Linked DNA regions of Homo sapiens. The protein of the gene in region 4 purifies or fractionates together with the protein of the main gene of each other region. This does not show direct contact. Each region holds a gene or a part of one and is shown on either strand. Other genes may lie near its edges. The genes, in order: RBM25, MBNL1, POC5 and MYO1B.

The links.
Region 1: the proteins of MYO1B (region 4) and RBM25 purify together in Homo sapiens (affinity purification with mass spectrometry; one large-scale study listed by BioGRID and IntAct). This does not show direct contact.
Region 2: the proteins of MYO1B (region 4) and MBNL1 purify together in Homo sapiens (affinity purification with mass spectrometry; one large-scale study listed by BioGRID and IntAct). This does not show direct contact.
Region 3: the proteins of MYO1B (region 4) and POC5 purify together in Homo sapiens (co-immunoprecipitation; one large-scale study listed by IntAct). This does not show direct contact.

What each region holds. Positions count from the first base shown.
Region 1 is NC_000014.9:73,094,992-73,100,673, reverse strand, and holds part of RBM25 (RNA-binding protein 25), read right to left. Parts: intron 3,760-5,682; coding exon 3,574-3,759; intron 1,295-3,573; coding exon 1,241-1,294; intron 1,008-1,240; coding exon 924-1,007; intron 1-923. UniProt on the Homo sapiens protein: RNA-binding protein that acts as a regulator of alternative pre-mRNA splicing. Involved in apoptotic cell death through the regulation of the apoptotic factor BCL2L1 isoform expression.
Region 2 is NC_000003.12:152,461,423-152,466,280, reverse strand, and holds the end of MBNL1 (muscleblind-like protein 1), read right to left. Parts: intron 3,897-4,858; 3' UTR 501-3,896; downstream 1-500. UniProt on the Homo sapiens protein: Mediates pre-mRNA alternative splicing regulation. Acts either as activator or repressor of splicing on specific pre-mRNA targets. Inhibits cardiac troponin-T (TNNT2) pre-mRNA exon inclusion but induces insulin receptor (IR) pre-mRNA exon inclusion in muscle.
Region 3 is NC_000005.10:75,709,750-75,715,431, forward strand, and holds part of POC5 (centrosomal protein POC5), read right to left. Parts: intron 3,203-5,682; 5' UTR 3,189-3,202; coding exon 3,105-3,188; intron 2,912-3,104; exon of another isoform or gene 2,858-2,911; intron 2,684-2,857; exon of another isoform or gene 2,636-2,683; coding exon of another isoform or gene 2,627-2,635; intron 1-2,626. UniProt on the Homo sapiens protein: Essential for the assembly of the distal half of centrioles, required for centriole elongation. Acts as a negative regulator of centriole elongation.
Region 4 is NC_000002.12:191,412,270-191,417,951, forward strand, and holds part of MYO1B (unconventional myosin-Ib), read left to right. Parts: intron 1-1,778; coding exon 1,779-1,911; intron 1,912-2,247; coding exon 2,248-2,400; intron 2,401-3,845; coding exon 3,846-3,973; intron 3,974-5,682. UniProt on the Homo sapiens protein: Motor protein that may participate in process critical to neuronal development and function such as cell migration, neurite outgrowth and vesicular transport.

The DNA.
Region 1 (5,682 bases), on a different chromosome or scaffold from region 4:
GAGAAAATGAACATTTAACATTTCACTGAGTTAAAGATCTCTCAGTCTATCAGTAAGAACCAGCAACACCTTATTATCTCGACCATCAAAATACATTTCATGCAGTGTTTGCATTGCACCGTTCAAAAGCATCATTTTCAACACCAGCGAACATTCACAGATGCACTGTCATTGAGAGAAGCTTCAAATAGGCAAAACTCGTGAGTGGGATTTACTATGCATAAATACCCATTTCCAAGCCAGTTACCCCTTTGCATATTTTTCTGAGGGGGCATCCATAAATATAATAAAAAACAGAAGCTCATACTTACATCCTATTCCTTGTTACTTTCCAAGCTGAGAGTTTCATCTTGCATTAGTCACCATATGATCTCTATCATAATGGTGGGGGTCAATGAATAGATTAGCTTTATGGGAATTTACAGTTCTTCCATGCATCTAAAATTTGGTAAGTCTGGTAACCACTGACCTACTGTTTAAAATCTCCCCCACTCAACTTAAATCTATACAAATATAAAATGTAAATTTTAATCTCAGCTCTAAAGAAAAGGTATTCCTAAGATCAAGTTAAATAACTGCCCCCAGAAATACACTACAGTGTATGTTATCCTGCTGCCCCCTGAATCTAATTTAAGTCTGACCTTGATGTTTATGTTGAAATCTAAAAATAAAATTAGCTTCTATTCATATTAAAGTGAGATGACTGCAGAATAGTCAGTAACTGAAAAAACTAAGCACAACATGTCAAGGACCACTTTAATATGGTATTGGTCTTCTGTTTCTTTTTTCTATCTAAATATCAATTAAACCTATAAAAAACATTTAAAATTATATTCTAATTTAAGGTTGATTTTTTTTGTCTCTTTGCTTTGGATTCTGTAAAAAGTCTAGATTGGTATCAAGTGAAAAGACAAGAATACTACCTTATGTGTGTCTCTGAATTTGCTGATCTCTCGAGATATCAGGTCTCTTTTGTCTTCTTCCATTTCTATAGCATTTATATCCTCCTAAAAGAAAACGGGCACAGGAGGGAATGAATAAAGAACACCCTACTTCAATATAAACAGTTAAAGGTTAGATATTCTGTATAGGTCTCAAAGAGTAAATAAGTAAACAGAATATCCACAATAACAAATCTAACAATCTAAAGTTAAATAGTGAAAAATCAGATAGACAAGAATGACAAATCAACAATCAGCAGTAAACACAGGTATTGTCAAAGCCTACAATTTAAACTAACCTTAGTGATGAGTGGATAAGGGATCAGTGGGGCCACTGGAAATCTGCGGAAAATCTGTGAAAAAATCCACCAAGAATCTTTTTTAAAAAAGAAAAACAGAGCTCATACTAATCTGCAAAGCAATGCCCTATACATTTATGACGTGAACAATACAGTACACTTCTGTGATGCTTTCTTGATTTCAAATTACTTGGGAATAGAAGTGATTTCACTCTTTTTACAATAACTGATCACACACTACCCTCCTCTCTGGATACTCCAACACCCCCAAGAAATGGAAATATAGAAGGTGCTCTCATAGTAGCAGGGCTTTCTAATCATACCAACAATATTTACCCATAACTCCTGCCACAGAGGAAGAATTTATTATCTCCTCCCAATCCACATCAAACAAATATGTTATTTTTCTCCTTTCCCACTAATGAAGAAAGAGGAAGAATGAATTCTACAGGCCTCAATTACCCTGTACCTTACTGACCCTACCAATTACCATTCCTAACAGAATACACCTCCTTAGAAAAGTTATGGGTCGGGCACGGTGGCTCACGCGGATCACGAGGTCAGCAGATCGAGACCATCCTGGCTAACACAGTGAAACCCATCTCTATTAAAAATACAAAAAAGTAGCTGGGCGTGGCAGCAGGCACGTGTAGTCCCAGCTACTCAGGAGGCTGAGGCAGGAGAATCGCTTGAACCCGGGAGGCAGAGCTTGCAGTGAGCTGAGATCGCAGCTGCTGCACTCCAGCCTGGGCAAGTGAGTGAGACTCCGTCTTGGGTGGGGGTAGGGGCGGGAACAAAAAAGAAAAGTTCTATGACCAAACGAGGAAACACATACCAAATAATAAAAATGTATGTATCTGGCCACAAAGAAAACTGAATATGGCCTAAAAAGGCACTGAAATTTAAAATAATATAAAATGTAACCATCCATTCATAACTAATCATAATATATATACCACGTAGTACTTTTTTATTACATAATGCATGCATATAAAACACGTTGAGCCAGCTATGAGTGATTCACACTTGTAGTCCCAGCACTTTGGAAGGCTGAGGCAGGCAGATCATTTGAGCTCAGGAGTTCAACACCAGCTTGGGCAACATGGTGAAACCCTGTCTCTACAAAAAATACAAAAATTAGCTGGGTATGGTAGCACATGCCTATAGTCTCAGCTTCTCAGGAGGCTAACACATGAGGATCACTTTAGGATGGGTATTCAAGGCTGCAGTGAGCCGTAATTGCGCCACCATCCTCCAGTCTGTGTGACAGAGCAAGATACTGTCTCAAAAACATAAATAAAACACTTCCAATATTTGTGGGATTTTTTTTCTTACTTTATAGAAGGGTCTCGCTCTGTGGCCCAGGCTAGACTCAAGTTCATGGGCTCAAGTAATTCTCCCCTCAGCCTCCCAAGTTGCTGGGACTACATGTGTCAGCCACCACTTCTGGCTTCTTCCAGTATTTTTAAAAGAACACTTCCTATAATTTATCTAAGTTTATCCAAAGGAAATAAGTATGAGAAAACTAAACCTTTTCTTTCAACCTGGACAATTAGCTTAGGGCCACAAAGAGGTAGCAATCAATTCACTGAGGAGGAATGTTTCAAGTTGTACTGCTCTTTCAGAATCCTCCAGTTTGATTATTCAATACCATTATTGTTCAGGGAGGGGAATGTGACATAGTTTCTTAAGGAAAGGCAGCTAAAAATTAAGAGTGGGTGGAAATCTTCAGTGAATCAGATCTGGTTTCTTGCTTAGAACAGAGACAGAACAACCATAGGCAAACAAAGTAAAATAGGGGCCGGGCGCAGTGGCTCATGACTGTAATCCTGGCACTTTAGGAAGCGGAGGCAGGAGGATAACCTGAACCCAGGAGTTGGAGACCAGCCTAGAAAACATAGTGAGACCTTGTCTCTGTAAAAAAGTTTAAAATGTGGCCGGGCACGGTGGCTCACGCCTGTAATCCCAGCACTGTGGGAGGCCGAGGCGGGTCGACCACGAGGTCACGAGATTGAGACCATCCTGGCTAACACGGTGAAACCCCGTCTCTACTAAAAACCAAAAAATTAGCCGGGCATGGTGGCGGATGCCTGTAGTCCCAGCTACTCAGGAGGCTGAGGCAGTAGAATCGCTCGAACCCCGGAGGCGGAGGTTACAGTGAACTGAGATTGCACCACTGCATTCCAGCCTGGGAGACAAAGTGAGCCTCCATCTCAAAAAAAAAAAAAAAAAAAAAAGAAAAGAAAAAAGAAAACTGACATGTAATCAAAGTATAAGAGTGATATCATAAAAAACAAACGGTAGAAATGATATGTTGTTGTCAGAACACATACGTCCTCCTTCTTTTCCTTCTTCTTCTTCCTGGGGTGAGAATCAGATTCCTGTGAGGGGGCATTTAGCTCACTGGAGTATTCACGAATTAAAACTTCAATAGCCCCTTTAATCATCTGATCTCTCCTCTTTGTTTCTTCATCCAAGGCTTCTTCATCGTCATTAGTGACAGTTTCTGGCCTTGCATTCTTAAACAAAACAGCAAATTCAGGGGAAAGAAAAATCAAGCAAGAAAATCAAAATCACTCTACAACAAGAGTTAATAAACATACATGTTTTCTCAAAAACATCTCTGTAGTCCTATTAAACACAGAATTGGTTTTGTTCTTAACATCAGAAAAGCTTCATTTTTTTATTTAACTATTCCTGAGATACTACTTCATTTTCATTTTCTTTTTCTTAATAGCTAAAAAATTCTGGTCCCTAAATTTCAGGACTAGCACACTATACGACACATCTGCAAACCATTCACAAGTTTTCAGACTGTTTTGCTCAATAGGTACACAAATAGTAACGACTCTTTTAAACAGTTGAAAATTCAGTTACGTAGTAAAGGCAAAATACAATTTTAAGTTAATTGTGATAGCTACCACTCAGAAAAAGCAAAATTGTATGTAGATTAAACAAACAAACAAAAACATCAGATTGCTAAATATACCAAACTGCAAGAATCGGGAGTTTAGGGGCTGTAATGATGGCTTATTTCCTATTTGCTTTCTACGAGTGCTTATAATGCAGGAATACATACCACTTATAGAAACCATACACTTACAACCCTAACAAGGAATCAAAGTAAGTATTTGTAGGTCTTTATCAATAATTTTCTGGCCAGGCGCAGTGGCTCACTCCTGTAATCCCAGCACTATGGGAGGCCGAGGCGGGGGCGGATCATGAGGTCAGGAGTTCAAGACCAGCCTGGCCAACATGGTGAAACCCCACTCTACTAAAAATACAAAAATTAGCCGAGTGCGGTGGTGCATGCCTATAATTCCAGCTCCTCGGGAGGCTGAGGCAGGAGAATCGCTTAAAACCGGAAGGCAGTGGTTGCAGTGAGCAGAGATTACGCCACTGCACTCCAGCCTGGGCAAAAGAGCGAAACTCCATCTCAATAATAATAATTATTATTTTCTAAGAAGTCTAGATTATTCCCTCTATGTGGGGAAAATTGTTGGCTTCTAATGTGCTACAATAGTTGTGCTACAATAGTTGTGCATGCCCCAAAGTTTTTAACGACTTACTTGGTAAACATATACCGTGCACATTTTCAGATACATACAAGAACCATGCTCATGTGCATACATGCCTGGCTCTTGGTCATAATTCCTGCAACTCTATTCAAGGTGAGTTTCATGCCTTGTGCCTCCTTAACAATGTAACTTAGCAGTAACTTTATAAGTTGACCACAAGCATTCTGAAAGCTGTCTCCAATGGATACGTATTCAACAAACATTTTATTTCTTAAATTAATTTGCTCAACAAATTCTTTTTTTTTTTTTGAGGCGGAGTCTTGCTCTGTTGCCCAGGCTGGAATGCAGTGGCGTGATCTCAGCTCACTGCAAGCTCTGGCCTCCCAGTTTCACACCATTCTCCTGCCTTAGCCTCCTGAGTAGCTGGGACCACAGGCTCCCGCCACCACACCCGACTAATTTTTTTGTATTTTTAGTAGAGATGGGGGTTTCACCGTGTTAGCCAGGATGGTCTCGATCTCCTGACCTCATGATCCGCCCGCCTCAGCCTCCCAAAGTGCTGGGATTACAGGCGTGACGACCACACCCATCAACAAATTCTTAAGAGCATACTGTGAGAAAGATGCTGCACTTAGACGGAATAAAATCCAAATTGAAAAACGCTCTCTTCTCCTCAAGCTGTATCACTACAGAGTAACAGATGGGTTATGACACAGATAACTTAAATATAAGGCATTACATGTTATTACAAAACTAACCACTTGGCAGGGCTCGGTGGCTCACGCCTGCAACCCAGCGCTTTGGGAGGCCAAGGTGGGCAGATGACGAGGTCAGGAGTTCGAGACCTGCCTGGCCAGCATGGTGAAACCCCATCTACCAAAAATACAAAAAATTAGCTGGGCATGGTGACATGTGCCTGTAATC
Region 2 (4,858 bases), on a different chromosome or scaffold from region 4:
CACACACCCCTCAGGAGTAATATCATGGCCTGCCTCATAGATCATATGCATAATTTCTTTCATCCCTCTGAATACAGTGCCATCACCTCTCTTGGATTGCCTGATTTCCAGTCCTAATCAGCTGACGCAGCAGTCAGGCAAATAAGATTTCTTTAATAAAAGATAGATAGTGATCTATAATGTATAATAATTTTTTTCTTACCGTTTTTTGCCCTGACACTTAAAACTATTTCAATCAGCGCTTAAAGTGTCAGACAGGGGAAGGCAAGAATTTCAGAAAACATTGGGCACAGGAGGGCAATATATGCTGATTTAGATTCTCCCTCTCAGTGTCAAAGGATAATTAGTGAGAAAGACAACAAATGCCTTCCTCGCAGTTGCAATCAGTTAAAACCAGGTAACAAATTTATACATCAATATGTTTGTAAAGATAGATACATATGCATGAATACATGAAACACGCAAAAATAATTTAGTATTCAATCTCAGATACACGAATATACTTAAGAAAGAGAAGTTTTATTAGGGCAATTTCACTTTATTTTTCCATACAGCAAAGTCAACTACTGCAGTAATAATAAAATAAGCATAAAACAAATTGCAGCCCAAGACAAAATACATAATTTTAAGCAACTACAAGCAGAAAGTAAGTTGTGATTACATAATAGTAAAACCAAGCACATTTGTCCTTTCAGCAGATGAAAGTGGTAGGGTTGCTGATAAGTGCAACATTTTTAACCAGCTGGAGTGAAGGCTGGATACACTAATTCTTTTAAACAAGTGCCCATTATCACATTTTGCATTTTTGAGTGCTTCTGAGTTGAAAATTAAAACCATGAAATTTGAACTGCGTTTTATTTTTCACCTGCTGAAAGAACAGGATCCTACAGCAATTAAAAAACAATCACATAACAACTATAGCTACAGTGTGCTGTTTGGTTTGCCTGTTTATGATTTAAATTTTGTGAAAGTCAATACTTGTTTTGAAGATTTTTTTGTGAACAATAAACCACTGAAATTGGCAGAAACTGATCTGAATAATATATGTTCTTAGTATAGTTCTTTCTCTCTTTTTTTGTTGAAGTTTTAAACATGCAGTAGTTTTGAAAAATGTAAGGAATATCTGATCCATGATTTCACCTTAATGGTAGAAGTACCTGCTATTTTTGGTAATGATCTTCAGGCAGATTTGGCCCCATGGAGTTTTTGTCAGTCATGAGGGTTTGAAAGGATGGCGTATCTTTCCAGCTGAAAAAATCCTGGCAAACTACAAGCTGTCCACAAGAAAGCAAAGCAACATGTTTGAAGGGGTATGGAGTGCTAACTCTGTGCCACTTTTGCAAGCAATTTTGCTCAGTCTGTCATTGTATTAGCCTTAACAAAACTCCTTGTAATTATAGACGTTTTTATTCAAAATAAGATCTTACTATTATACAGGTTTCTCTCTTTTGACTATATACAGAAGTGCAAAAAGTCAACCTTCTCCCTAGACGTTCCAACATGCTAAATTGCAGCATAATCAACCCTCAAGAGTTTGCACACACGCTATAATTTTCATTACGTAAACTTTGAGTATTTGGATTATCAACAAAAAGTCCCTTGTTCTATTTATTGATTATGCAGCTTATTTATAACAAGGCCTGATACTCAGGGATTTCAAAAATATTAAACAATATTTTAACATTTGAAATGGATACAGTAGAAAATAAATTTTATTCTAATATCTAGGATCTAGATCTTCTTATAATAACTAATTACAAACAAAATAAATCATCAAAATATTACTCAATTGTCTGCCAGGATTGTTGCGATAGCAACAACTTAACTTCTTACTTAGCAATGATTATATATTTATAAGATATCCATATAAAAGATCTTTGTTCTTTTAATGAAAACTAGACAAGAACTAACAATGACTGACATTCTTACACTGTAATATTAAATCAGTAAAATATAAATCATTTAGTTAACAATACGAATATTCATGTGACACTACATGTAATTCAAAACTGAGTATGTTATGAAGGAAAAACTACTTTTTTTTGTATTTTGAAAAATTCATTGGTAAAATCTAATAAAACAAGTCTATAAACTGAAATGGTATTCAATTGTTAATAGAAAATGAAAATCTAATAAATGTAGGAAATGAAAAACTACATTTTAACAAGAAAAATAAGTAATATTCTATAATGTAACTAACTACAATAACATGTGAAGTCACCATTACTTTCTTAACACGATTGAAATTACATTGGTATGGGTTCCAACCCGTAATGTAATAATCTAAGGCTTTAATAGATGTACAGTACAATCAGTAAAATCAACACATCAGTCTTATATTAGAAAGCATCTCTCTCAAGCATAAAAACTTGCAGTAAACTTGGAAGTATGGAAAGTTCTATAACTGAACTTTCACTTCTCCCATTCCATACTATAACTACCAGTGACCTGGCCCCTACTTCAGCAATTTTTAGAACTGCTGAACAGAGCAAAAATATCCTTTACTAGCTGCAACATCCAAACCTCAAAAAAAGGAATTCCTTTGGATGATTCCATTCTTAAAAACTGAATGCACATCTATTTTTTTTTTAATTTTGTAAAAGGCTTTCTAAGGCTATAAGCAGTTAATCTGAACAAAACAAAACAAAACAAAAATCACATATAAAATTCACCCATGTACTTAACCCACCCAATTACTAGGTTAATTAAACATTTCCCATTTTCATATTTTGGTTTATCATGCATCTGATGACAGTGCTGCTTTCTTCTTTGTTTAGAGTCACTATTTTGAATGTGACTGTGATGAAGCATTTAAGCAAACGTGAAACCATTTTTGCAAAGCATTTATAGTCTTTTGACTTTTGACAGAGGCTATAAATAGAAGCAAAATAATTTCCTCATTTTTTTGTTACTGTGTCTCAGAAATGGCAATCCCTTTTGAATAACATGTTATACAGTATAGTATGCATAAATATTACACTACAATGCATTAAAATAATTTTATATATATCTATTATATATATATCTCCAGTATGTGTGAGTTTATCTGTATTGAGAGAGTTTGTGTTGTGCTGTCTATTGTTACTGTAAAGTTAAATTGGCCATTTCTGAGACAGCTTTGGTTTCAAAAAAAAAAAAAAAGAATGGTGCCCTTTGACTGATTAGTACTAGCAAATATGCAACAAAATGTGGCTCTGAAAACAATAACACTGAAGAAATAATACTCTAATTTGATGTACAGTCTATGGCACTTCATGAGAATCCTTAACAACATGGTACTTAAAGCCATGATGTGCTTTAAAATATACACAGTTGTGGTTTTGCTTGGCACATTCATCTCTGTCAGATCCCTCCCTCACCACGTCTTACAATCTATTACATTAAAAATATTACTCTTAAACAAAAATGACTGTGCATGCACGCTCTCATCTATAATGGCAATTTTAAATACAAGGTGCACCTTTGTTATTTGTAAACCTTGAAAGAAATAAACTTATTTTTAAAAAATTATATCTTGGTCTACAGACGTACCAATACATAATAGAATCATGGTTACACCATAGTCTGTCTTTTCAAGATGGCATGAATATATAGGAAACTAACTAGGTATGCATCTTTGAATGCATAACTCTGTGCTAGAAAAGAAAGACAATGTTGTTCTTTTAGACAGGAATATCACCTCAGCACAAATATCAATTAAATGTACAAAGTGTATAGGCAACAGTGTGCAGTGGATTTCCGGAAAATGTTGTCTTTTCTTCTGGTTAACATGCAATATGTGGATGTCTTGTGGCTGAGGAACTTTTGTGTGTGTTGCTTGACGATATATACAATATGGCTAATGACCTCGTCCTTTACTCTAACCAAGCACACTGTCCTTTCCTCTTTAGCATGATCTACAAGGGAAAAAGAGATAAGCTTTGTTAGAACAGGTAATATCTAAAAGCAGTTTCTAATATACATTTAATATGAAAATTTTCTTTTTGATTAACCAGTATATTTACATTATATCTTCATATAAAAACAAAAACCATTTTACAAGAGTAGACAGATCAAAATTTGTCTATCATCTCTACACGAATGAAATAACACGTACAATTTAATAAAACTGTAGAATGTGCTCCAAAATTTACCAATCCTAAACTAAAAGTATAAAATACATTTGCAGAATCAGGGGGCCTAATATACAGAGCTCTTTTTTAGCACAATTGTTGTAGGGCAAAATTTAAACTTCTTTTCTGAAGTTTAATAAGGTTTCAAGAGTAAAGGTCTGGTCTACAAAATTAAAATTCATGTAATATGTTCTATTAAACAAGATTTATTCTTTTTGGGTGCTTGATTAGCATAATGCATGTTTGAAAAAAAAAGAATGATACTTTAAGTGATGGCTTTGGGTAATTCAGTTTGTTGAACTTTTTTCACCTAAAACTAAGAAAATAAAAATCATTCTTTTTGAATTACAGAATTATTACTCATGAATTAAGCTGTAATAGACATTACAATGTACTTGTGGATTAACAGTTCCAGTTTTTACATGAAATTTGTTCTCAGCAGCGAATATTTACATATATTAAAAGTATGCTTCACAATACAACCTTGAAAATGAAAGAAATCATAATCTAGTGACTCAAAAACCAGTTTAAATGTTGCAACTCCTCATGAAGATGAGCAATCATTTGTTAAATGAACAGAACATTAAAAGCTTAGCTTCAATACAGACAAAACTACTGGTTTGCTAATTATTTTTAGAAATTTTTTTCAACCTGGATTATTGCTAAGAAACAGAATTTAGTTAAATATATACATACCAAACACACCTAATTGACTATAAGAGCTTGAAACAGATTTTTCTGGCATG
Region 3 (5,682 bases), on a different chromosome or scaffold from region 4:
GCACAAGATATTTACTAGTTCCTATAAACCTGAATGTGTGTGTTGGTCCTAATAAACTAATACATAAAATTTCAAGTGCATAGAGACTGTAACTAATCCAGCAGCATCCATTTCTTTTTAATTTCTTTAACTTAATAAAGCCCCAGGGTTTGATTTGGGCAAATGGCCACCCAGCTACATTTCCCAGCCTCCTCTGCAGCTAGGTGTGGCCAAGAGACCTGGTCTATGGGATTCAACTGGAAATGATGTGTACAACTTTAGGTGAAGTCCTTAAAAACGAAGCTGCTTCCTGCTGGTCCCCTCTTCCCATGGGCTAGTGGTAGTACACTGTCAGTGCACCAGTACCTGACAATGCAAACACGGTCAACAGCTCATGGTACAGCAAAAAGAGAGAAGGGATTGGGTCCTCAGATGATCTCAGGACTACGTATCAGCTCAGAATTTATGAGAGACAGAATGAAACTGTAAGGAACCCACTTAAACCACCCTTACTTGGTTTCTGTTAAAGCACTATTATACTTCCCAAACACCCAAAATATACTTTTGATTTTGGCTAAGAATATATAAAAGTGTGGCTGTTATGGAGTTACGGAGTCTGAATGTTTGTGTCCCCTCAAAATTCATATGCTGAAGCCCTAACACCCAGTGTGGCTGTATTTGGAGATGAGGCCTTCAAGAAAGTAATTAAGGTTAAATAAGGTCATTGGTTGGGGCCCTGAGAGCATTAATGTACTCATCAGAAGAGACACCAGGAACCTTGTGCATGCTCTCCTCCCACCTGCACATACTGTACTGAGGAAAGGCCATGCAAAGATACAGCAAGAAGGCACCTGTCTGCAATCCACAAAGAGAGCCCTCACCAGAAACTGACCCTTTTGGGCTGTGATCTGGGACTTCTAGCCTCCAGAACTGTGAGAAGATAAATGTCTGTTGTTTAAGCCTATGAATTTATGGTACTTTGTTATGGTAGCCTGAGCAGATTAATATGATGGTGATCTTATATTGTGAGGTTCATAAACTTTTTATAGTGTTCCTGCTGTGGTGTCAGTTGCAACTAGATTTAGCCAAGTCAGCTCTACTCAGAGTTAGCCTATCACCACCTCTAGCATGTAGGAACGGAGGGAGAAGTGGAAGTCAGTGGCTTTCACTTGTGGCTTCCCTAGTCTGACTTCTGCTCTGGATAAGAGAAGGAAAAAAAAGATCCAAACACATATTTCAAATCATATACTTCATACATATTCATATATTTCATATATTTTACCACAATTGCTATGGCTTAAAGGGGAAATAAATAAGTATATGTCAATAGTATTCCATGACCATATATTCCAACTTATTTCAAGAAAACATTTAGAAAAAATCAGTTATTTAAATGACTATTTTAGAGTTTCATATATGTAGACACAAGCCAAATAAGTTATTTAAAAATAAAATTTAAAATTAAGAATCAAAATAAACAATATTGGCTTTCTTAATTGCCAAACATAACCTCTGTTAACATTCAAAACTTGTAATTTTGCCCCCCTCCCCAACCCCCAAGAGCTGAATTGATATGACCCTGAAATATAGCTCCACCCATGCCTCAACCATTAGAGTCAGAGCAACTTGGCTGATAGGAGCTGTGGTTAGAGGAAATTTTCAGTGTATAAGCACTATGGATGCTGCCCATCCCTCAGCATTTACCACCTTCTGGCTTATGAAGCATTCGCATAAAAAGAGAGTAACAAAAAAGTTCCTTAAGAGGAATATTTATTTATGAGGGGCTTTTGTATTAAATGTTTGGATTTACATATTTACTACATATGTAAAAATGTGTATTTTATGTTATTTTTAAGATTTTTTTTTGTATTTATATTTTGAAGTGCTTCCAGTAGTGAAACCCAAAGTAATAACACTGTATGTACAGGGAATATGGAGAGGCTTTCAACTTCAGTCCAAGAACCAGTAGGAACATTAGTTGACAGTAATAGACTCTCAGTTGAGCTTACATTATAGGTGGGTAAACAATAACACAAAATAATTTCTGGCAGGTTCTTCTTCCGTCTCTCTAAAATTCCACTCTAGAGAGTTATTCTTTTGATTTAAAGCTTTATCTCTTCACGAAATGAAATTTGAGAGCTCACAAGGTGTTTACATTTTAGTATAAATGAGTTAATCAGTTCTATCTTCAAGTTTCAATCAGACAGCGATGAAGGGTGGAGGAAGTACTGTCACCTGAAGAGAGGACTACATGGGACAGGTACCATCAAAAGGGAAGGCTAGGGTGCAAAAGCTCTGCCACAACTCCAGACTAGTTTTATCCTGTAAATATTCAGATATTTTCCCAATACCTTCCCCATTTTGAAATCCATAATTTCGATTAAAGGAACAAATTTGTTTCATAAAATATTTTCCTAAAGCTTTTCTCATATCGTACAGAATCAATAACAATTTCATATGCTTAGGCATAAACAGCCTTTCCCCTTGAGTAATACAACTGTAAAATTTAAGATATACCATGTCATTATTCTCATATTTAAAATCTACTCCAGAAATCTAAATCCATATTTTTGATGATGAAATATTTAGAAATAAGAGAAATTTAAAACATTTCATGTAAATACCACACCCTCTGTAGTTAACTGACCCACTTCATTTTATCTGTCAATGTCCAGGTCCTGGGCAGCAGATTGTACTGAATGTTGTGACAACAGAGACCAAACCTCAGCAAGTAGAACACAAGGGAATCTTGAGCTCTAGAACTTTGGATGGTTTGATATTGTATTAATTTGCATTAAAAGTGAAAGTAGCATTCATGAGAGGTAGCTAAAATGAAAAAAATTTAAACAAAAAAATGTTTCTTGAACATTTGTTTCACCTCTTACTGTGTTGGTTGAAGCCTTTGTACAGAGTGTATGAAGAGTTCATCAATATTTTCTGAAAAGTTAAAACAATGTAAAGTCACTCCTAAAATGTGTACAGTAATTCCTGAAGTTTGATATTATTATAAATTGAAAAACTCCCTTGTAAATGGATGAAAAAATTATTAAAAAATCCTAGTTTTCCCTTACATTCATTTGTTTAAAATAAAAAAAGTCATGGTAAATTTAGAAATTTTTTCCTACCTGAAGATTCGAAGAGACAGAACTGCCTCGACTGGAGTCATTTTGCACAACTGGAAGTGAGTATTTCTCCTCATCTGATGACATTCTGCACAAATGCTCTAAAACAGTAGAAGCTAACTTTAGCTTTTTTCCTTGATATTTAAGATAAAATCCTTTCCAGATATATATAAGTGCAACAGTATCCAAATCTGCAATCTTCCTGTGATATGCTAAAATCATTCATTCAACATATTGAGTACCTACAGGCAAAAAATCACTGGGCAAAAAACAGTTGAAGACCCAGTCCCAATATTAGTGAGTTTATAACGTAGTCAGGTCTTCAGAAAAATCCCCAGCGGGGCCTGTTGAGCATAATAGATTGTGATCACTGTTCTTGAGCAATGTGTGACAACCTGGGTGCTGTGTACTTTCCTCTAAGACACAGAACCAAGAGAGAACAAACAATTTGTGCAAATTCCCTTCTTGGGAAACTTACCTTTGGAAATATTATTTTAAGAAAAGTGAGCTTATACAGAACAACAGAATCAAATATATGCATAGAGAATTTGTTGAAAGTCCTAATCAAAAAATCATTAAAAGTACTTTTAGTAACAAGTAACCGAATTATTCAAAGAACAAATAGTGACTATTCGAACTATCTGAATACCAGTAATATGTAAGACATTGGTGAGGAATGTAAAATGAAGTCCTCATTCTTAAGGAGTTTACAATCTGTAGAGAGGGCCAGGCATGTATATTATATAAGTGACCGACTGATGAATAAACTGCTGATAGGCCCTAAAATAACAGATACAAAGTAGAGAGATAGGAGTAGCTATTTTTCATGGGGTAAGATTGCATGACTGTAAATAAGCAGGAAAGGAGGCACAGAAAGTTTTTAGAGAAGATGACCCAGGTGTTGAGATCTGAAAGATGAGTAGGTCTCATCCTGAAAGATGGATAAAAGGTATAAACACAGGTGTAGATATTCTAGGCAGTAGAGCAATATAAGCAAAGACAGAGCCATGGACATGTATGCCACGAACAGCAAGCAGTTTGGTAAGGACAAAGCAATGGGTGCAAAGGATTGGCTAAGGATGAAACAAAAAGTAAGGAGCAGCCAGATCATGGAAGGTCAAAACTTGTCATATTAAAAATCTGGGTGTTTATTCTAGACAAGTTATTGAAATATTTTTTAAAAGTTACATGATCAGAAAGATCATTCCAGCAGCGTTGAGGATGAATTTGGATATTAAGAGAGATCAGGCTGGGTGCAGTGAATCATGCCTGTAATCCTAGCACTTTGGGAGGCTGAGGTAGGTGGATCACCTGAGGTCAGGAGTTTGAGACCAGCCTGGCCAACATGGCGAAACCCTGTCTCTATTAAAAATACAAAACAATTAGCCGAGCCTGGTGGCAGGTGCCTGTAATCCCAGCTACTTGGGAGGCTGAGGCAGGAGAATAGCTAGAACCCTGGGGGTGGAGGCTGCAGTGAGCCAAGATCGCACCACTGCACTCCAGCCTGGGTGACAGAGACTCCGTCTCAAAAAAAAAAGAGAGAGAGATCAATTGAGAGCTGACTGCAGTAGTCTAAGAGATAAATGTTCTCTTTGATAGTAATTAAGAAGATAAATGATGACCTAAGTCTAGGAAGTAGCAATGGGAAGGGGATGGAGGGTATGACTACAAGACAGTTGTGTTATGGTGATGGAAAGAGAAAATGATCAATAATAGATCAAGGGGTTAAAAAGAACTGTTGGTGGCTTCCAGATCTCCGGTTTGGGTAACTAGATGGATAGTGCCACTCACCAAGGCAAGGAAGGTAGGAAGATGAGCAGGTTGGGAGGAAGGACAATGAGTGCCATATCAGATGAGCTGGGTGTGAGGATGCCTCTGAGGCACTAGGGTAAAGCTGCAAGTATGCAGTCTGTGGTCACACTGGCTACGTAGTGCGCTACTCCAAGAACTGCCATTCACAATGGCTACACTGTGAATGGTGTTTCCTGGAGTTAAGCATTGTGGGAGCGCCGCACTGGAGGTATAAGTTGGAGATCCAGTTTGAGGAATCACTGGCATAATGGGAACTGCTGAAAAAAGGGAATGGATGAGACCACCTATAAAAAAGGAATGTGAGAAAAAGTTCTTATCCTGAGGTCCTGTATTAGTACGTTTTTCAAACTGCTATAAAGAACTGCCCAGGCCGGGCACGGTGGCTCATGCCTGCAATCCCAGCACTTTGGGAGGCTGAGGTGGGAGGATTACGAGGTCAGGAGATCAAGACCATACTAGCTAACACGGTGAAACCCCGTCTCCACTAAATACAAAAAATTAGCCTGGCGTGGTGGTGGGCGCCTGTAGTCCCAGCTACTTGGGAGGCTGAGGCAGGAGAATGGCGTGAACCCGGGAGGCGGAGCTCATAGTGAGCCAAGATCGCGCCGCTGCACTCCAGCCTGGGCGACAGAGTGAGACTCCGTCTCAAAAAAAAAAAAAAAAAAAAAGAACTGCCCAAAACTGGGTAATTTATAAATAAAAGAATTTTTATTGACTCACAGTTCCGCATGTCTGGGGAGGCCTCAGGAAACTTAAAATCATGGTAGAA
Region 4 (5,682 bases):
TTTTTTATACATTTTTAAATTAGGGAATAACCTTCTTAATGAACATTTCCTGTGGATGACTCTTCAGAAACTACAGGCTGGAAAATACATCTTTGAGGAAACAATTTAAAAGCCTGTTAGCATTTTTATAATTTAAAACACAGTTGAATAGGAACCAAAAAAAGTTAACTTCAAGCCAAGTCCTTTTTGGGTAGTCTTATCAGTTTTCAGGGATAGTGGCACACTCACCCCACAGCAGTGAGAGAGGTGGAATAATTTAGCCTCCCACCACCCTGCAAAGTGGCAGCTCTTATGGGAGTTGGCCTTTTATATCCTGAGAGCTGTGAAACGCTGACCACCTACGTGGATTTTTCTTCCCTTATCCTCCACCCACAACATAAGCATTTAAATTTGTATTTGCAAATTGCCAGAACTTTGTAGCTCAAAATGAAGCTTATAGATTCCTTGAAGCAGCAGTTTTTCCTTGGTGCCTTTGATGAACCTGTCCTGAAAGAGTCCCCCGACAAGTCTTTAGGGAAATTGATATCTTAGTGATAAGTGTACAGTTAACCTTTTACAAAAATTAGTTTGTTTGGGAAAAAAAAAATTGCCCTGATTCTGAATGTTTGCTTTGGTTACTTCTGTCCATTTAGAGGCATATTCTAGGAGAAGAGGCTTGATTCTCCTTTCATATACAGATGCTGCTTAACTTATGATGCAGTTACACACAGATAATCCATCATATGGGTTATGAGTGATTTCTATCTTGATTGTTCCATGTGATGAGATTATTATCAAAGTCCTGCCCACCAAATGCCATGATCACCTCAAAAATATATTTGAAATAGGTTTAAGGTTTCATTTCCAACTTATATTTAGGACAGATGCAAGCGTAATGTATAAAATAAATTGAAGTCAATTTTTATGAAGTTGTCATATGTCATATGAAGTTGAAAATATCATAAGTTGAAAATGCATTTAATACACCTAACCTACTGAACACAATCACTTAGCCTAGCCTACCTTAAACATGCTCAGCACACTTACATTAGCCTACAGTTGGGCAAAATCATCTAACACAAAGCCTGTTTTATAATAAAGTGTTGGATATCTCATGTGGTTTATTGACCACTGTACTGAAAGTGAAAAACAGAATGGTTTATGAGCACCACTGTAAAGCTGAAAAACCCTAAGTCAAACCAAGTCAGAGACCATCTGTATTGCCTACTTAGAACCACAGTTACATGTTAATATTAAGTGTTCTATAGTTTTCTTCTAAAGTGATTGCCCTGGATCTGTTCTTTCCCAGAAGGCCTATTGATTTTCTTATTCTCTGCAAGAAATGAAATTTTTCTTTAGAGCAGGTGATGGTAATGATTTCAGCTCTTTTCACTGCCACATATTGTTTGAAGGCGTTAGTAAATCCTTTGTGAGCAGCTGTTAACTTTATATTAACAGATTAGAAGAAATTGCCTTTTCCTTCACATGAGGCCATGTACTTGAGTCTTAGCTGTTGTTCTTATGAGTGATTTCTGTCTTGATTGTTCCGTGTGATAAGATTATTATCAAAGTCCTGCCCACCAAATGCCATGATCACCCCAAAAGTGTATTTGAAATAGGTTTAAGGTTTCATTTCCAACTTATATTTAGGACAGATGTAAGTGTAATATATAAAATAAATTGAAATCAATTTTTATGAAGTTGTCAGCTACTCCTTAGAATCAACTGACCTGTTTCCTTTTTTTAGTGGTACTTTCATTTGAAACTATTTCTAATGTGCAGGAATTTTTTTCCTTTAGTGTTGGGCAACCATTCCAAGGGGCTTACCTGGAAATCAACAAGAACCCCAAGTATAAGAAACTCAAAGATGCCATTGAAGAAAAGATCATCATTGCTGAAGTCGTGAACAAAATTAACCGTGCTAATGGGAAGGTAAAAATGCTAACCTTGAAGACTGATAAGAAGTACCTATTAGTTGGGATAGTCACCCTGTTTTCTGAATGTAAAAATTTGCATTTCATGTTCTCAGTAGAGTTAACTATGAAGGCGGCTATTTCCCCTTACCTTTAAGCTTAGGTGGAATTTTGCTTGTTCTCTGACATTTTTATGAAATAAAACATATTATTTATGTTCTTTACTGCGTTCTTGGTTTACATAGGTATGTTTGTTGAAGGATATTGGAATTTTTGCAAATAATGCCTTAAACTCATGGACCATTTTTGAGTATTTGTGATCATTGGTTTTATACTATTTTTTATTTTGATTTAGAGTACATCTCGGATTTTCCTCTTAACAAACAATAATCTCCTTCTTGCTGACCAAAAGTCTGGACAAATCAAGTCAGAGGTTCCATTGGTGGATGTGACCAAGGTATCAATGAGCTCACAAAATGATGGCTTCTTCGCCGTCCACCTCAAAGAGGTAAAGGTTCAACAGAAGATTTCTGTGCTTAATCTCTCAGCCATTGATTTAAAAAATTTCCATATCTGATAATCCTATCGCAGTTTATATATCTGCCTTGCTAATTTGCAAATTTTGGATATTCACCCCTATGTAAAATCTCCGACTCAGTTTTTCAGTAATTGAATAAAGTTAATCACTTTTATTGGCCAGTTTACTTTACTTTTTGAGACTAATACATAGAAATATCAAGATGTTTTAAATTTTGTTTTCTCCTGTTTTTTCTTCTATGTATCAACTTAGTAAATGTCTTAATGTTCATCTCTAATCTGGGGGTTTACATTAAAGGATACAACTAAAATAAAATAACCGCCAGTTAATTTTAACCTAAATAATTTTTAGTGTTCTGTGCCTTTAGCTTAACCAGGACTCCTGGCTTGGATGCAGTGGTTACATGTAGGTTCTGGAGTTGGTCTCACTCACTTTATGATAATTTTGGCCAAGGCATTTAATTTGTGTGTGCCTACCTACTTTTTCTCATCTTTAAAATGGGGATAGTAAGAGTGCCTACTTCATAGCATTGTTGTAAGGATTAAGGATTAAATGAGACACTGGAGGAACAGGGCCTGTCACATAACACATAGTCACTGAATAAACAAAAGTTAACAAATATTGATCATATGTAGGGACATGTGTCTAGCTAATAATGTTACTCTCTGGCCAACCCTAAACTTAGAAAAATCCCCAAAGCTTCCCTTAGCCTGTTTACCCTACTTTGGATCTTAACTTAAAGGGGGCATATCAAATACTAGGACAGTGATTCTCAACCTCAGTGACACATGTAAACAGCTTGGGAACTTTAAAAATTCTGATGCCCAGGCCATACCCCTATGAAATCAAATTAGAATTTCTCAGAGGGGGCACAAGCATCATGTTTTTTTTTTTGTTTTGTTTTGTTTTTTTTTTGAATAAACCCAGATGATTCCCTTGCACAGCTAAGGCTGAGAGCCACTGCCCTAGGATATTTGTTGGAAGTGTTGTCATTAGGGTTTTAACCAAATCACTGAAAAGTTTTTTAATCAAGTCCTTCAGAAGAGTTGCGGGATAGGTCCATGCTCCTCAAACCTGAATGTGTAAACCCATACCTGGAGGTTGCGTTGTGGTTTCATATTCACTGGGGCTGTGGTAGGGCCTGAGATTCTGCTTTTCTAGCAAGCTCCAAGTGATGCACATGGTGCTTCTGCTGCATCCACCGACTTTAGGTAGAAGGGGATTAGGTAACCTTACTAAAGTGCTCTGAGCAAGTTGGAAGAAACACTGCTTTTGTCATTATTGTTTACCTTGGGAGAATGGATTCCAGGATCTGATGTTTTAAAGAGACTGTAAGTATGTTTTTAGCCAAGCCTGTAAATATTGACCTTCTAAGGTATCTTTAATTATGACCGACTCTTGGTTTGTCCTTGCAGGGCTCAGAAGCAGCTAGTAAAGGAGACTTTCTCTTCAGCAGTGATCACCTGATTGAAATGGCCACCAAGCTCTATCGCACAACTCTCAGCCAAACCAAACAGAAGCTCAATATTGAGATTTCCGATGAGTACGTTCATGTATTGTTTGAAAACCCTTTTTCTCTTTCAGCTTTTTTGTTTTAGTTCAGCTCTCGATCTCATTCATTAATACAACTACTTATTAAGTACCAGGTATGTGTCTAGTAGTTGTTCCACATGATAAATGGGCAGTGAATGACACTGACCAAGTCTCCAACCTCATGTACCTGACATCCTAGTGGAAGAGACCAGTATGTACAAATAAAATGATGAAATAGTTGATAAGATTTTGGCTAACAAGTGTTTATGGAGGAAAAAAAGGGTTAAGAGTCAGAGAGTAGGCCAGGCGCAGTGGCTCACGCCTGTAATCCCAGCACTTTGGGAGGCCGAGGCAGGCGAATCACGAGGTCAGGAGTTCGAGACCAGCCTGGCCAACATGGTGAAACCGTCTCTACTTAAAATACAAAAAAAATTAGCTGGGCGTGGTGGCGGGCGCATGTAATCCCAGCTACTCAAGAGGCTGAGGCAGGAGAATCTCTTGAACCCGGGAGGCGGAGATTGCAATGAGCCGAGATCGTGCCACCGCAATCCAGCCTGGGTGACAGTGTGAGACTCCGTCTCAGAAAAAAAAAAAGAGTCAGGGAGGCCTCTTTGATGTGGTGACATCTGAGACTGGTATAAATTTGAAATTTGCTTCTTCAATTTCTCATTAGGGTTCTGAATATAGAAGTTAGTTATTTGCATACAGGTTGGGGCATCCCCAGATTTATTGTATCTATCTATGTAAGTGTTTTGGAGAAATCTGAGTTACTGTGTTGATTATACTTAATTGGTTACCTTTCAATAGATTGTTTACCTGCTTATATACTTCTTTGCATGTCTAGATTGCTCAGGAAATTATATTCTTTTCTAATTAAGAATTTTCTAGTCTATTCTGTTTCAACTCTTCCTAAAAGTCTTTCTAAAATAAATTTACACCCATTTCTGCCCCTTTGTAAGTCAGACTCTCTTTGATATGTTAGGATTTTGCAGTGCTGTGGGCTTTTCTTAAGTTCTCATTGAAGTGTTTAGATTTGGGTGGGAGGTTGGGCTTCATGTATACTCTATATTGGAAATTGCTGTTCGGACTAAATAACTTTTCTTGTTAATGAGATCTTTCTCATAAAGAAATTAGGAAAAAAATAATGGTTGGTGTGTTTCAGTTAAGGATTTAACACGTTAGGGCCTATTAGAGCTTTAAAATCCCTTTATAATAGTTGAAGTTTTTCATAATCTGGGAGAATGGGCTTTGGTGGGGCTGCTAATTCTCACTCACCATGGGAAGATCGTATGTATCCCAGACAGCAGAAGCTCCTCAGTGTACAGACGAAGCAGTCTCATAGTTGTCCCACTATGTGAATAAACTCATCTTTACACAGAAAGGAAATCACACCAACATCCAGACCACAAAGTACTGCTATTTTTAAGCATTTCCCAAACCGGGATTCTAGGAACATTGCTTGTACAGGATGCTAATAACGATGTACTGTGAAAAAATTGTTCTCTGATGGAAATTTAAAATCTTTCTTCACTACATTACATCTCAGAGTCCCTGAAATCTTGTTGTGATTCTCCTGAGGAGCTTTGCGGGGATAGCGTGTGGCGTGAATCCTAAACATAGTCAACCACAGAGCTCCTTCAGCAGCTCTCACAGCTTGTGTTCGAAGGTGTGCCATCTGGGAAAGGGGGACAGTTCGCTTCTGGGCAGCAAGGGCCCTGC